Regions from separate parts of the Homo sapiens genome. Here region 2 is linked to region 1. A link means that fine-mapping ties the variant in region 1 to the expression of a gene that starts in the linked region. Tissue or cell type: tibial nerve. Region 1 holds a variant in brackets; the other region holds the start of a gene. All regions are shown on one strand. Distances are between the middles of the regions.

Region 1 (8,183 bases):
CCTCGGCCTCCCAAAGTGCTGGGATTACAGGCGTGAGCCACCATGCCCGGCACCATTTTATTTTGTTTTGAGACAGGGCCTCGTTCTGTGACCCAGGCTGGAGTGCGATGGCATGATCACAGCTCACTGCAGCCTCGACCTGTTGTGCTCAAGCAATCATCCCTCCTCAGCCCCCCAAGTAGCTGGGACTACAGTCATGTGACACCACACCCAGCTAATTTTTTTTCTTTTTTTTTTTTTTTTTTTTTTTTTGTAGAAATTGGTTTTTGCCACGTTGCCTAGGGCTCAACTGTTCCTCTTTCCTCAGCTACCCAAAGTGCTGGGATTACAGGTGTGAGCCACTGAGCCTGACCCCAGTTACTCATTTTTCTATCTGGCTTAGTTTCTGTTTCTTTCTTTCCTTCTTTGGTTTACTATTCCTTAAGTTATGTGAACATATAAAGGAAAAAAAATGTATCTTAAGTCAAATTCGTGGCTTTGGGTGGAAGAAGAGGGAAGAAAGAAAATGTATTTTTGGCCAGACGTGGTGGCTCATGCCTGTAATCCCAGCACTTTGGGAGGCCAAGGTGGGCAGATCATGAGGTCAGGACTTTCAGACCAGCCTGGCCAATATGGTGAAACCCCATCTCTACTAAAAATACAAAAATTAGCCTGGCATGGTGGCATGCGCCTGTAGTCCCAGCTACTCGGGAAGCTGAGGCAGAAGACTTGCTTGAACCTGGAAAGCAGATGTTGCAGTGAGCTGAGATTGTGCCACTGCACTCCAGCCTGGGCGACAGAGTGAGATTCTGTTTCAAAAAAAAAAAAGTATTGTTTTATTATACATTTAAAGAAGAAAGTGTTCATAGCCATTGATTTTTCCCTACATGGTAATATATTCGTGGCACCTGGGTCACGTGGAATTATGGGAAGAGAGTCCTTTTCCCTTCTCCTAGGCTGGAGTGCAGTGGCACCATCTTGGCTCACTGAAAGCTCCGCTTCCCAGGTTCACACCATTCTCCTGCCTCAGCTGAGTAGCTGGGACTACAGGTGCCCATTACTACGCCCGGCTGATTTTTTGTATTTTTAGTAGAGGCGGGATTTCACCGTGTTAGCCAGGATGGTCTCGATCTCCTGACCTCGTGATCTGCCCACCTCGGCCTCCCAAAGTGCTGAGATTACAGGTGTGAGCCACCACACCCGGCCAGTCAGATCTGCATTCCCCACTTCCACTCGCTTCTCCGTTGTTACACGCCTTTGACTTTTGAGACTCATGCCACCATGCAACGTGACTCCACTGATGTCCATCATAGTCCTCTCCCTTCCTGTAGCCCTGGGCTTCTTGTCACTGCTCCCCATGGGCAGTCTGATAATTCTTGTAAAGTGACTCATGGTTCCTCGACTCTTTTGACCCAATAACTTTTCTCTCCACTCCACTGCAAGGTGTGACATCAAGATGCAAGATATGAAATGACTGGTCATACCTTGCAACTTGCTACACTTTATCATAAAAATCTTAAGCACCTGTCCACAGTGCCATATATTTTAACTGTCATATGCTTGCACTTCCTGAAACACTTTCCCAATACTTGGGGACCTCTATTAATGGTTTTGTCAAATTTTTACCCAGCCTAAAGAAAATAATTAAAATACATTCAGTGTAGCCTGAGTGTACTGTGTTTATAAAGTCAGCAATAGTGTACATTAATGTCCTAGGCCTTCATATTTACTCACCACTCACACACTGACTCACCCAGAGCAACTTCCAGTCCTGCAAGCTCCATTCATGGTAAGTGTCCTACATAGGTGTACCATTTTTTGTCTTTTCTACCATATTTTTACTACACCTTTTCTCTGTTTAGATATGTTTGGATATACAAACACTTACCATTGTAATACAATTGCCGGCAGTATTCCATATAGTAACATGTTATGCAGGCATATGGCCTAGGAGCTACAGGATATACCATATAGCGTAGGTGTGTAGTAGGCTTTATCATCTATGTTTGCGGAAGTGCACTCTGTGGTTCACACAGTGATGAAATTGCCTAACGACACATGTCTCGGAATGTATTACTGTCATTAAGAGATGCATGGCTTCATATATTTTTTACTCTGTTCTTATGCTTCTCTCTGTAGAACTCCAATGGCACAGATGTGTCATTGTATTGTTACACAGATCCTTAAGGCTATGCTCATTTTTCTTCAAACGTTTTTCCTCTCTGTTGCTTATATTGAATACTTTTTATTGATCTATCTTTAAGTTCATGGACTTTTTCCTTTGTCATTTCTATTCTGCTGTTGAGATCATCTTGTGAATTTTTAATTTCAGTGTTTTTATTTTTAGTTCTGAAGTGTAACTGTCTTTTCACTTGCAAGTTGAGATTTTCCTTGTTCTTTACATGCTGAACCATTTTGGATTATATCCTGAATATTTTGGATATTATCTTATGAGACTCTGGGTTTTGTTTAAAACGTCAGGACAATGTCTTTTGCTGTTGTTTTCAATGGCAATCGGCTAGGTCAGATTCAATATGCAAATTCCTCCAGTGGGCTGTAGTTCTATTGTGGTTCAGAGCCATGTGGTACAAGCACACAGAGAAAAAGAGCAGTGAAGAATCACTCTGAACTCCTGGAACCATAGATTCTCAGGTAAGAGAGAAGAGTTTCTTCCTTCAGAGTTGTAGGTGCTTCTTGTTGGTAGCTGTTGCTCTTTGCCCAGCTGCAACCACTGAATCACCAGCACAGTATTGCTTAGGTTATAAAGAAAGGAAAGCAGAAATATAGGAGGGAATTCATCCTCCTCTTTCTCACCTGTAGGGGCTCATTTTCCTTCCCCTCAGATCAGAAAGTGAGAGATCTTCGGGAATTCTTTTTGTCTGTAACCAGGATGTATTTCGTTTCTTTAAGCCTCCTCTGACTGGCCAGTTTTGCATGTTGCTTGTTTTCAGTTTTCAAAGTAAGAAAAATCCTATGATTCTCCTGATGCTTTATAAGTCTATGCTTTCAGATTAATGCGAAAGATTATTTAAAAACAAGCTTTCGGTAAAAATGAAGGGCATCCAAAGAAGCCTGCTTTCCACTTGGCTTCTGGCCATCTTTCCTTTCTGCGGGGGTTCAAGAGCTTGGAGGCATTGGATCTGGTATCAGAGCGGTCACCTTCCCCACTGATGGGGAAGCCCAGAGGCCTTAGGAATAAACGAAGCCCGTACTGAGGAAAGGGAAGCTGAGAGGACCGAGGAAACACCGACTTTACACGCCTGTGGACTGCAGGAACCATTTATGGCACGAGCGGGTCTTTACTTATTTATTTTTATTTTTAGATTTTACTTTAAGTTCTGGGATACATGTGCTGAACATGCAGGTTTGTTATATACACGGGTATACATGTGCCATGGTGGTTTGCTGCACCTATCAACCCGTCATCTAGGTTTTAAGCCCCACATGCATTAGGTATTTGTGCTAATGCTCTCCCTCCCCTTTTCCGCACCCCCTGACAGGCCCTGGTGTGTGATGTTCCCAGGAGTGGGAGTCTCTAAGGGGTGAAAGGAGAGAGAAAACACGCTGGGCTAGCACTCTGCTGAGTTCTGCACTGAGTTAGTGCCTAACTTTGTGCTGTCTGCAGCTGTCTCCCCTACTCCTGCCCCAGGGTTCACTTCCTAGAACAGAGCCCCGGGGAACCCGGGAGCTGTGGAAAGCCAGGTCTCCCTTGTGGTTCGGGAAACACAGAAATTCAGCTGACCAAGAGACGAAGAGAAGTAAAGCCAGCGCACGGAGGTAAGAAAGTGAACATAACTTCAGAGCGCTATCATCAGGCCTGGTGAGGCATGCTTGGATCTTGACACAAAAATCCCTCTTCGACTTGATCTGGCTCTAGTATGGATCTTTCACTTTAGCCCAAAGTGCCTCCTTGAACTCTCAAATGCATTCTGAGCTGAGCACGATGGTGATTTGGGGTCAATCATGATATTCCCCGTGGGGGATTTTCTCTCTCGGAGCGCAGACCTCGTGATGACCCCTGTGACCCACCTCCTAGAGCTGGGGGCTCCGGGGAATGCCTGACGTGCCTCAGGACAGAACAGGTGTGGTCCACCACCATTCGTGCTAACCATGGAAACAGGGTACATGGGGTATAGCTCAAGGGTGATGTGCAATTTTATCAGAAAATAAATGCTATTTATTCTAACACTGAAAACTGAATTAGGTCCTCATGCTTCTTTTCTTCTTTTTTTTTTTTTTTTTTTCCAGACTAGGTCTCACTCTGTCGTCCAGGCTGGAGTGTAGTGGCATAATCATGGCTCACTGCAGCCTCAACCTCCCTGGCTCAAGCCATCCTCCCGTCTCTCCTCATGTTTCTTATGTCTGATTGACAGGGCAATAAAAGCACATATCTGGCACCTCTCCTTGTCTGGGAGGACTGGCCACAGAGTCATTTTGCAGAAGTTGGAGAGGAGT[G/A]CACTAGATGGGGCTGTTGGCTTGCATTATACAATTCACACTGCAGGGGGTAGAGAATTGAATTTCACATTTGAGAAATGGGAAAGGAGGAAATAAAAAGATGGAATGCCCTAATCTTTCTGAAAATCCAAAAAAGGCCCAAGGAAAGCTAGTTCAATTATTCCTACCATGACAAACTATGATATGGTCAGACATGCGCACTCTGGCGGGGTGTTCCTAGCCTGGGCTGCCCAAGAGGTGGCAGCTGTTCTAGGACAGATGGAGTGTGGGCCCCTTTCCTGTAGTGAGCTGGGATCACTTAGGAATGACCATCAGCCCAGAGCCGTGGGGCTTATTAGATGCAGGGGTGAGTGGGGCTTGCAGGAAATGGCCCACCATCAGTGCTCTGATGTCCGAATGCCACTCTCGTCACCTCGAGATTAACATTTAGAGGGAGACCATCCTGTGTGGCCTATTGGTGAGACAGGGACTCAGAGGAACACAGGAACCACCCACACCCTCGCCCTGCCGTGGCTACCAGCTGCCCTGGCACACCTGGTTCCCTTTGAGTTCGCCATTCTCGTTGCCACATCCCATCCTTTTCCAGACACTTCTATTTTTCTCACACCTGGAAGTGACACCTGCTGGCAGTCTTCGGAATTTTCCAGAGAGTTGGCAACTTGGGGCTCATTTGTTTCTGCTCATTTTTATTTAGTTTTTCAGATGGGCTGTGCTGCGGGCAACACATGATAGTAGCTCATCAAAGAGAGGCTGTTTTTGGGAAGTGGAGCAGCCACCGCTGATTTTGGAGCTGGGGTAGCTGCCGCTGCCACAGCCACTGCAGCGGCCTAAGGAGTCAGCTTGGGAAGGTAGTGGTCACCAAGCTCAGAGCTGTGCTTGGAACTGACAATGGATAAAAGTGTGCTGGTACAGAAAGCCAGGCCCGCTGAGCAGGCTGAGCGCGGTGATGATGTGGCTGCAGCCGGGAAGGCAGCCATGCCACAGGGGCATGCGCCCCCAGCTGAAGACAGCAATCTGCCCTCTGCCGCCTACAAGAATACGGTGGGGCCCACTGTTCTTCCTGGATTCTCATCTCCAGCACTGAGCAGAGAACAGGAGGAATGAGAAGCAGCAGATGGGCAAAGAGTACCATGGAAGACAGAGGCAGAGCTGCTGGACATCTGCAATGAGGTTCCGGAGCTGTTGGACAAGTCTCTTATTCCCCATGCTACACAACCTGAAAGCAAGGCGTTCTCCTTGAAAATGAAAGGAGATTGTTTCGGGTATCTTTCTGGGGTGGCGTCTGGAGACAATAAACAAACCACACTGTTGAACTCCCAGCAGGCTTACCAGGAAACATCTGAAATTAGTAAGAAAGATATGCAGCCTACACACCCAATTCGACTGGGCCTGGCACTTAATTTCTCAGTCTTTTGCTACGGGATTCTAAACTCTCCTGAAAAGGCCTGCAGCCTGGCAAACGTGGCATTTGATGAAGCAATTGCTGAGTTGGATACACTGAATGAAGAGTCTTATAAAGACAGCACTCCCACCATGCAGTGACTTCGGGACAATCTCACTCTGGGGACATCGGGAAACCAGGGAGATGCAGGAGATGCTGGGGAGGGAGAGAACTGTGTCTGCCATGCCTCACAATCTGTTCAGTGTCACCCTGTACCATCCACGTAAATCCCTTTGTGTGATTAAAAAAAAAAAAGAATTGTACATTGTCTTGCGATTTTTCACAGCCTCAGCCTAGCAAGAATGGTTCGTGGGATAAACAGCTGGCACTTGTATCTAAAACCTAGATTGGTTGCATAAACACCATGGCATTCTGAAGTTTTGGTTTTGATTGACATTGGCAAGATTACTGTGTGTTTAATTTTCTTAAAGCTGAGCACTGTGGTGATGGGTTTTGTAATTCAGCATAATTCTTACTGATAAGAAAAATAGACCTGAATGTTATGTAACTCTTTGGAAAGTTTAATCCAATATTAAAATAGTCACTGAAATACAATTTCATTGTAAAGTTGTACAGAAAGTTACAGAGGTTATGTCGTGATGCTGGGATGTGGAGTGAGACACCATCATTTGGCATTCAAGTTTAATGGTAATTCACAGTGATGCTGCCTGTTCAGAGCTTATAGACACTGGACCTGTTTGGGCTATTGCCACTCAAAAGTTCATGACCACAAATGTCCACAGCGTCTTCCTCTGAGGAAATGCAAATCCTGAAGCTGAAATTCCTTGTGACAGATAACTGGCTGTGACACCTTGAAAAGTTCTGGTGCTCATATGACACACCTGACTAAACCCCCCTTCCTACAGCAATAGGAATATGTTACTGATTTGAAACTTGTGCCTCAATAATGGAATAGTTTTTCATTGTTAACACTGAGCTAGTGCTGTAAATGCTGTCTGTTTTATGAATGCTCTTTTCTGTTTCCTGGCTAATATCTCCTTCTTTTTTTTTTTTTTGGTGTGAGGAATTTAATAAGATAATGCATACAAAGTGCTCAGAACCCCAGCAGATACACGGCATTCACTGAGTGTTAGCCAGTCTCATTATAGCACAGATGTCCCTTCCCCCACATGCCTTTGCCCCACATTCCTGGATAATACCTTTAAGAATAATGTTCTGAGTCAGGCATGGTGGTGTGTGCCTGTGGTTCCAAATACTTGGGAGGCTGAGGCAGGAGGATCACCTGAGCCCGGGAGTTTAAGGCCATAGTGTCCTGTGGCTGCCCCTGTGAATAGCCACTGCACTCCCACATGGGCAACATAGCAAGACCTTGACTCCAACAAAACAGAAGAATGTTCTGTAGAGATTGCCTTTCACTTCAGGAGTGCTCAGTTTTCATGTTCTTCCTAGATTGGGGCTTTTATTTATTATTATATTATGTTTTATTTTATTTACTTATTCATTAATTAATTAGTTAATTTTGAGACAGGGTCTCCCTCTGCGGCCCAGGCTGGAGTGCGGTGGCACAATCTTGGCTCACTGCAACCTCTGCCTCCTGGGTTCAAGCAATTCTCCCGCCTCAACCTCCTGAGTAGCTGGAATTACAGGCACGTGACACCAAAGGCCACCTAATTTTTGTATTTTTAGTAGAGATGGGGATTTATCTTTTTTTTTTTTTTTTTTTGAGATGGAGTCTTGCTCTGTCGCCCAGGCTGGAGTGCAGTGGCGAGATCTCGGCTCACTGCAAGCTCCGCCTCCCGGGTTCAGGCCATTCTCCTGCCTCAGCCTCCTGAGTAGCTGGGATTACAGGTGCGTGCCACCATGCCCAGCTAATATTTTGTATTTATAATAGAGATGGGGTTTCACTATGTTGGTCAGGCTGGTCTTGAACTCCTGACCTCGTGATCTTCCCCGTCTTGGCCTCCCAAAGTGCTGGGATTACAGGCATGAGTCACTGTGCCTGGCCTTTTGTTCACTTTTTTTTTTTTTTGAGACAGAGTCTCTGTCACCCAGGCTGGAGTGCAGTGGTGCAATCTCGGCTCACTGCAAGCTCCACCTCCCAGGTTTACGCCATTCTCCTGCCTCAGCCTCCCGAGTAGCTGGGACTACAGGCGCCCACCACCAAGCCTGGATAATTTTTTTTTTTTTTTTTTTTTTTTTTTTTTGTATTTTTAGTAGAGATGGTGTTTCACTGTGTTAACCAGGATAGTCTCGATCTCCTGACCTCGTGATCTGCCCGCCTCGGCCTCCCAAAGTGCTGGGATTACAGGCGTAAGCCACCACACCTGGCCTGTTCACTTTGTAATGC
Region 2 (8,183 bases), 21 kb before region 1:
GAGTTCTACTTTGAACTCGGTCACGTACCAGCTATTGCTTAGCCTTTCTGTGCCTGAATTTCCTCATTAATAAAGATGACCACAGCAGCTAGCTCACAGGACACCACTGTGATGCTTAAATGAAAATCTATGTAAAGCATTTAGAACTGTTTCCAGAACAAGCAACAACTCAATAACTGTTAGACTTTTGTTTGTTGAGACACGGTCTTGCTCTGTTGCCCAGGCTGGAGTGCAATGGTGTATTTATACCTCACTGCAGCCTGGCACTTGTAGGCTCAAGCAAACCTCCTGCCCCAGCCTCCTGAATAGCTGGGACCACAGGAGTGCACCAGCATGATCAGCTAATTTTTAAATTTTTTTTTGTAGAGTAGGAATGTCACCTTGTTGCCCAGGCTGGTCTCAAACTCCTAGCATCATGGGAACTTCCCACCTCAGCCTTCCAAAGTTCTGGAATGACAGGTGTGAGCCATGCACTCAGCCAGATGTTATAATTATATTACTAGTATTTAACAAAAATATTTTAATTAAGTAAAATGATACAATTATTGCTATTTTGCAGGATGATTTAAAGATTAGGTCACATTTTAGCATATCTGATATTGGAGTGGTATTTATAATTCATAATTTTTATATGGTAGCATTTATAATTGGTAGCATTTAAAAATCATCTTATTAATATAGAAAATAGTAGGGTATCACACAATCCATGAGGTCTTACATTAAGTAGAATACTGTATACACAGCAGGTCTAGGGCAATTCTAGGAATCTAATTGACACTTAAATACATTTTAATTCCTCAAAGTACCATGGGGAAAGAGCACTGAAATAACAACATATTTTTTAAACAAATTACTTCTTACTTTGATTTTTAAAAATGGGAAGCTGGCCGGGCCCAGTGGCTCACGCCTGTGATCCCAGCACTTTGGGAGGCCGAGGCAGGTGGATCTCTAGGTCAGGAGTTCAGGACCAGCCTGGCCAACATAGTGAAACTCTGTCTCTACTAAAACTACAAAAATTAGCTGGGTGCGGTGGCAGGCACCTGTAATCCCAGCTACTCGGGAGGCTGAGGCAGGATAATCACTTGAACCTTGGCAGCAGAGGTTGCAGTGAGCTGAGATCACGCCACTGCACTCCAGCATAGGCGACAGAGTGAGACTCTGTCGCAAAACGAAAAAACAAACAAACAAACAAAAAGAAACGTGAAGCTAAAGGAAACTCATGATTGAGATGAACAGGTATGGCTCATTTTAGTCAACACTTAGATTTACAGAATATATGCAAATCAGACTTTCCAATGATTAATATTAGTATTTAAGACTGATAAATTTTCAAAAGGGCAGTTAAAGGTTATCTCTTATTGTTTTCTACCTTCAGAAAGGCTTTTGCTTGAAAGGTGGGAGGAAAAGCTTCAGTGAGATTAAGTTCTACTATTCCTATTTTAAATCTCTCATCTTGCTCAGGCAGAACAGGTAAACATAAAGTTTTTAAGTATGGAAGGGTCCTGAGAGATAGTGCAAAATGTTTGCTACATAACATATTCGAGTTATGTTTGATGAATAAATGGATTGATAGAATACAGTTGGGGAGCTCAATATTTTTAAATACAACTTCTATAAACCAATATTTTTGTGATAGTAATAATATTTGCTATTTGTTATTTTGATAAGACTACAACTATAATGAAATGATTAATCTATCATTGTTTGCCTATATGTAATGAATCTATACATAAGAAAAACATATATACATAATAAAGTATATACATAAAATCTGCAAGCACAGATAAAAAGATTCCCTTTTTACTTCTGAAGAAGCTAAAAGTTCAAACCCTCACAATAATAATGATAAAAAATAGTGAGAAATTATTTTTATCTGTTCAAGAGTCATATTTCTCTTCCCAAAATTTATTCCATTAATAATAAATTTTTACTAGAAATTTTATAAATGCTCACTTCAGAAATCAAAGGTAAGAAAAAGGAACAAAAAACTTTAAAATACAAATGCTCAGAAGTTACAAATTTTATCCTATTTTGTGCATAGTATTGCCTAACACCAGACCATAGTATGTTTGTGTGTATGTGCAAGCAAACTGATTTGTTTTTCCTCACTGGCTGTAACAAAATGCATCTTCACATATCAACATACTTCTCCACCTATTGCCACCTTCAATGGCCACATACCATTCTATGGGTTCTTGTTAACATAAATGCTGGGGAAAAAAAGTGCATGTATCTCTATTTTCTGAAGGTATTTTAATACAATGGAATTGATGGGTAAAGGGCATATACATTTTTAAAATGTGGTAATTATCTCCAAATTATCCACTTGAAAAGTCATCAGCAACTTAAACTTCAAGCAGCAGTGTAAGTGCCACTGCTCTTCATTCTCACAAACACTGTGGATAGAACACAGTCTCACTCCTCTTTTAACTTATCTTATGAGAAACACTAAGGATTTTTTCCTATGTACATAAGTAACTTGTGAATCTGCAAAAAGTGCTTTGCTCACTTCTAGAGTTCTTTTCTTGTGGATTTGATTGGAAAGAATTCCCTGTAAAATAAAGATGTGCTTTTTATCTGTATATATATAACTGATATATATATATAACACATTATATTAGTAATATATACAATTTCTTATACATATAATCAGTAATATGTATTATATATAATAAAGAATAAATTCCCTGTAGGATGAAGATACACTTTTCATCTGAATATATATTTTTATATATTAGTAAAAATATATATAGGAAATATTTTTCGAGTGTGTTATCTTTTGTTAATTTTTTTCTGATACACAGGGGATTTTAATTTTTAGTTTGCTAAATCAACTTTCAGAATGCCTGCTTGCGAGGTCATTCTTACGAAGGCCTTTGTTAACATAAAATGTACCTGTATAAATAAGTCTTTGCGTTTTCTTCTGGTACTTTTTCTCATTTTGCATGTGTAAAAATTTCAGTCTGAATTCCATCAGGAACCCATTTTTGCGACATAAAGTTTCATTAGTTTTCTTCACACAGCAGGCATTTTATTAATAACTCATCTTTTCCTACTCATCTGAAACGTTACCATTATCCATCCCTATGTATATATCTTACATATATTTCAGTGTTTTTGGATTTCCTGTTCTGTTCCATTTATTTATCTGTGTTTTCAGCTGTTAGTAAATAATTAATTGTGGGAATTAATAGCACATTTTGATATCTAGAGGAGCAAGTCTTTTCACTCCATTATAAACATTTTTAAATGTCATCACAATGGTAAGATAGATAGCAAGTGTCATGCAAAAATGATAAAACCTTGATATCTTCATTCAGTTTATGTAAAACTGATAAACATGGAAACAGTTCATATTTTGAGAAAACTGAGTCTTCCCATTCAAGGAACCCACCTCGCGCTTCCCAGTGTCCCTCTAAGAAGCTCCAGTAAAGAACCTGTCTACCTAGGTGGATTCGGATGTAAAACCGACACAGGGTTTTATCTGAGAACTCTTCGCCTACTGAAAAAGGCTCATGGTATTTTTGACAGGGGAATGAGTTCTCATTAGGCACCTCCCTATCATGTATATGGCCCCATGTTTTAAACGTGGATATGCCTAACTTTGTGAGTTAAATCACTCAAATTTTCCACCAAGCGCGACGGACGGGGAATTGCCAGCGACGGAAAGCAGCTGAGGCTCCATTTGGCTCCGCTGCTCCGAGGGTGCCCGGCGCCCTCCAAGGTCCCCGCCCCAGGGGCTGCCGGGCTGCAGGGAAGCCGGGCCTGCGGCCCCCTCCCACCGCGGGCTGAGTCCCCGAGCTACCTGTCTTTTCTGTCGCGGGCGTCCAAGTCCCGGAACCTGCGCGTCAGGCAGCGCTCCACCTCCGCGGCGTCGCCCTTGATGGCAGCCCTGTGGATCTTCCGCAGTTCCCAGTCCCGAATGTCGTAACCCGGACCCGCATACTCTTGGTCCATGGAGCTCAGGAGCGCCTGGCCCAGGCGTCTCCCGAAGCTGAAGAGCTTCCTCATGGTGGCGACTTCTCAGACGCCCACCACCCGCTCCTGAGCCGCGGCGGCTCCTCGTGGCCTTTCCACCCCCACTCCGCCCCAAATCCGCGATCTCCCCCGCAACCCGCGATCCCCCCCGCAACCCGCGATCCACCCCCAAATCCAAGATCCACCCCCAAACCCGCAATGTAGCTCAGAATCCGCGATCCAGCCCGGTCCACCACAGCCTTCAGCAGCGACACTCGCAGACTCCGACCTCTCAGACCGAGTGAGCCCAGCTAAGCCGTTAGGCGCGCGCCTGAACCTCAGCGCTCCGAACTCTCAGACCGAGTGAGTCCCCGCGATGCCAGTTAGGCGCGCGCCTACAACTCAGCGCCAGCCGGGACTCCGGAAGCCGCTCCCAAGCCCTCGTGGCCGGCAGGGGGCACCTGCAGCACGGGCGCACGCGTCGCTGGCTTGCGGGTTCTCCTGGGCTCCCGCGGGACGTCCCGGAATCCCAGGAGTGCATCCCTTCCCGCCTGAGGGCCTGCCTGGCCCTGACTCCCGACCCGCTCCTCCTCCGAAGAGAGATCGGGGCCGCTGACAGGGGCCCTCCGCAGCCACCGGGGATGGGACTGGGGGGTCGGTTCCTGTCCCGGTGCAGCCGCCGCCGGGTAGACCGCCTGGCTTGGCCGCAGCCAGGGCGACATGTAGCCCCGGTTCTGCCAGGCTGGGAGCGCCAGCCATCTTGGGAGTTGCCAGGCAGCTGTCGCCAGCAGGTAGAGGGCGCCTGCAGCTTGGGCGCCCAGGTGGTGGAGCACGGCCTAGGCGGCCTCTGGATCGCGAGTGCACCTGGCCTGAGAGCCCGCCAGGCCCTGCCCCTGCTCGGCTCCTCGTCTGCTGAAGCTCGGGACCTCTAGCCAGTGGCCCTCTGCAGCCACGGGGAATGGGGCTGAGAGCCGGTTCCCGCTGCAGGGCAGACCACCTAGCTCAGCCGCAGCCACAGGGACATCTGGCCCCGGTTCTGAGATGTGGGGAGTGCTGGCGGGCTCGGGGGTTGCCTGGAGGCTGCTGCCTGCACACAGAAGGCGGATGCAGCTTGGGTGCCCAGGCGGGCTGGAGGTGCATGGCCTGGTCGGCCTCGGGATCGCCAGCGCGCCCAGCCTGAGGGCCCCCAGGCCGTGCCTCCCGCCCATTCCTCCACCGGAGGGGGATCGGGGTCGCTGGCATGGGCACTTGGCAGTCACTCCGGATGGGGTTGAGCAGGGGTTCTCAGTTTTCGCCCCTGTGCAGCCGCCGCCGGGCAGAATGCCTGGCTTGGCCGCAGCCACTGCTACACCTAGCGGGTCGGGCGGGCCGGGGGGTGAAAGCGCTGGGAGGCGGGTGCCTTCTCGCCCTGTGGCGCCTCTGGGCCCCACGGCTTGTCGGCCTCCGGCGCGCAGGGCTCCCCAGCATCCTGGGCGCCGGCCCGCTGCCTGCACAAAGTCAACTCAGACAGGATGAACTTCGGTTGCCTTGTCTGGCTGGGCTGCCAGGCGGGGCAGCTGACCTGCTGATGGGGTGACTTTCTTCATCTTCTTGCCCACAGGACAGCGGGCTGGGAAGCCAGGGGCCGCCGGGACCTGGGGCTGGAAACCACATCTGCCCACAGCCGCAGCCTCCTGCACCTGTCATCCTGGCGGCGCCCTGACGTCGGAGAAGCAGCAGGCGCGGAGCTCCTGCAGCGGGCACCGCTGCAGCAACCCGACCCGGCGCAGGCGGCAGTGGAAGGCGGCCTGCTAGCACGGCTCCCGCGGCCCCAGGACCAGGGGTGCGGCCAGCACCGCCCTCACTCCCCGCGTCTCGTGGATATTGCCCTCCCTGGAGGCGGCTGGACCTAAGCGAGGCTCGCAGCGATCGGCCCCGCGAAGACTCGCATGCAGGGCTCAGGATCCCGCATTCTGGCGCCGCGGCACCGCACCTTTCAGCAGCCCTGCTCCTCTTCTTGTTGGTAAACTTTTGTCACTCTGCCATGAAAAGCATCCAGGCGTCCTTGATTTCGACATTGCGTGCACGCTCAGCCGAGCTCATCAGACGGGCGGTTGTCCCCAGAGCCCGCGGGTAGCTTGTTCCCGGGCGGCGGCTCCTGCTGGATGCAGCTCCTTGTGGGCCTACCAGGCTTGGTGGAGCCACAGCAGACCTGTGGAGAGGAAGAGTAAGGCGGGCTCTGCAGGGCAGTGGGCCGGGACCATGAGAGAGGCGGGTCAGTCTGGGCTCCAAGCTCAGCCTCTCGGATTCCCCGGGACCCACGGCTTATAATGCGCTTAAATCCCACGCCTCGCCCGAGAGACAGCACGTCACCGTCACCGTCACCGCCTAGCGCCCCTGACCCGCTCCCACTCCGCTGCAGCGGAGGGTGTGTGAGGGAGAGGGACGCAGGGAGGGAAAAGCGTTGGGAGGGCAAACATCTTTTCATAAGCTTTTCCCCTTCTATATGCCATCTCTGATGGGAGCCTCTTTAGATCTTTCGTCCATTTACTAATTGGGTTGTTCGATTTCTTATTGTTGAGTTGTAAGTGGTTTTTAATGGTCTGGATGCCAGACAGGTGTTTTGCAAATATTTTCTCCGTCTGTGGCTTGTTTCTCCATTCTCTTATTTCCTTTCCCAGAGCAAAAGTTTTTAATTGTAACGACTTCATACCAATATCTTCTTTCATGGTAGAAATTTGTCTTTTATGTACTTTACTGTTGTATCTACAAAGTAATTGCCAAACCCAAAGTTACCTAAATATCCCTTTTGTTATTTTACAGAAGTTTTACAGCTTTTGGATTTAAATTTAGGTCTAAAAATTGAATTCATAAAAGTAGAGAGTATAATGATGCTTACCAGAGGCTGTGTTGCTGGGGAGAAAAATGGGAAGTTGTTCACAGATGCAAAGATTCAGTTAAACCGGAGAAATGCGTTTTGAAATCTATTGCACAGCAGGATGACTATAGTCAATAATAATGTACTGTATATTTAAATAACAAAAAGTAAATTTCAAATATCTAACCACAAAAAATAAAATTGAGGTGATGGGTATTTTTTATTTTATTTATTTATTTGTTTATTTATTTATTTTTTTGAGACAGAGTCTCGCTCTTTCGCCCAGGCCGGACTGCAGTGGCAGGGTCTCGGCTCACTGCAAGCTCCGCCTCCTGGGTTCACGCCATGAGGTGATGGATATTTTATCCTCGATGTAGTCATTCCTCATTTTATACACATATCCAAGCATCACATTGTACCCCATAAATGTATGCAATTGTGGTTTGACAATTTAAAATATTATTAACTTAAAAATGTGTCGTTCGAGTTAATTTTTGAGGAGCAAGGTCTGTGTCTCAATTCTTTTTTTTTTTGCATATATGTATATATACATACACGCAATGTATTCATCACTGTTTTTGAAAAAGCTACCCTTTCTCCCTTGAATTGCCTTTACCTTTTTGTAAAAGATCAATTGACTGTGTTTGTGCACTCTTATTTCTGAGTTCTCTATTCTGTTCCGTTGATCACTTTGCAAGTCCTTGAACTTTGTTCCTCCCCCACAATATTGTTGGCTATTCTTGTTAGTTTGTCTTTCTATATAAACTTTAGAATTAGTTTGTCAATTTCCACACAATAATTTATTCATGTTTTCACGAGAGTTGTAATGAATTTGTAAATCACACTGAAGAGAACTGACATCTTAACAACACTGGGTCTTATTTTGTGAATACAGATGTCCCTTCATTTATTTAGATCTTTAATCCCTTTCAACAGATTTTATAGTTTTTCTCACATAGACCCTGCCCATATTTTGCTAGATTGTGTCTATTTCATTTTCTTGATGCTAATGAAAATGGTATTGGGCTTTTAATTTCAAATTCTCGTTGTTCATTGCTGGATGTAGGACAGCAATTGATTTTGTATATTAACCTTATACCGTGCAACCTTGCTATAATCCAGAAGGGTTTTTGGCTGATGCTTTGAGATTCTCTACATAGAAAATCAAGTTATCAGCAAGCAAAGGGCATTTTAATGCTCCCTTTCCAATCTGTATACCTTTTATTTTATTTTCTTGTCTTATTGCATTAGCTAGGATTTTAGTATGATGTTGAATAGGAGCAGTGAGAGGGGATAACATTTCCTTGCTTCTTTTGTGTAAAACATCCCATTTTTCACATTATGTATGATATTGTCTGTAGGATGTTCT

What was found. PIP is the estimated chance that this variant, and not a neighbour inherited with it, causes the effect.
Region 2: it holds the start of FAM201A, and the variant in region 1 is fine-mapped to the expression of FAM201A in tibial nerve (GTEx, PIP above 0.99). The same link has a PIP of 0.9 or more in esophagus muscle, fetal neocortex, gastroesophageal junction, left ventricle and lung.

What each region holds. Positions count from the first base shown.
Region 1 is chr9:38,637,723-38,645,905 of GRCh38, forward strand. It overlaps the pseudogene YWHABP1. Among named protein-coding and RNA genes, the nearest start is that of FAM201A, 21 kb to the left of the region's middle. RefSeq lists enhancers at 4,842-5,343, 5,344-5,843. The variant G/A (reference allele first, on the strand shown) is at 4,435.
Region 2 is chr9:38,616,275-38,624,457 of GRCh38, forward strand. It overlaps FAM201A (family with sequence similarity 201 member A), which reads left to right and starts at 4,814. Exons shown (of 2, transcript NR_027294.1): 1 at 4,814-5,091; 2 at 5,558-7,010. It overlaps ANKRD18A (ankyrin repeat domain 18A), which reads right to left and starts at 4,322. Exons shown (of 16, transcript NM_147195.4): 1 at 3,806-4,322. The coding sequence starts at 4,011. RefSeq lists enhancers at 4,968-5,087, 5,740-5,949.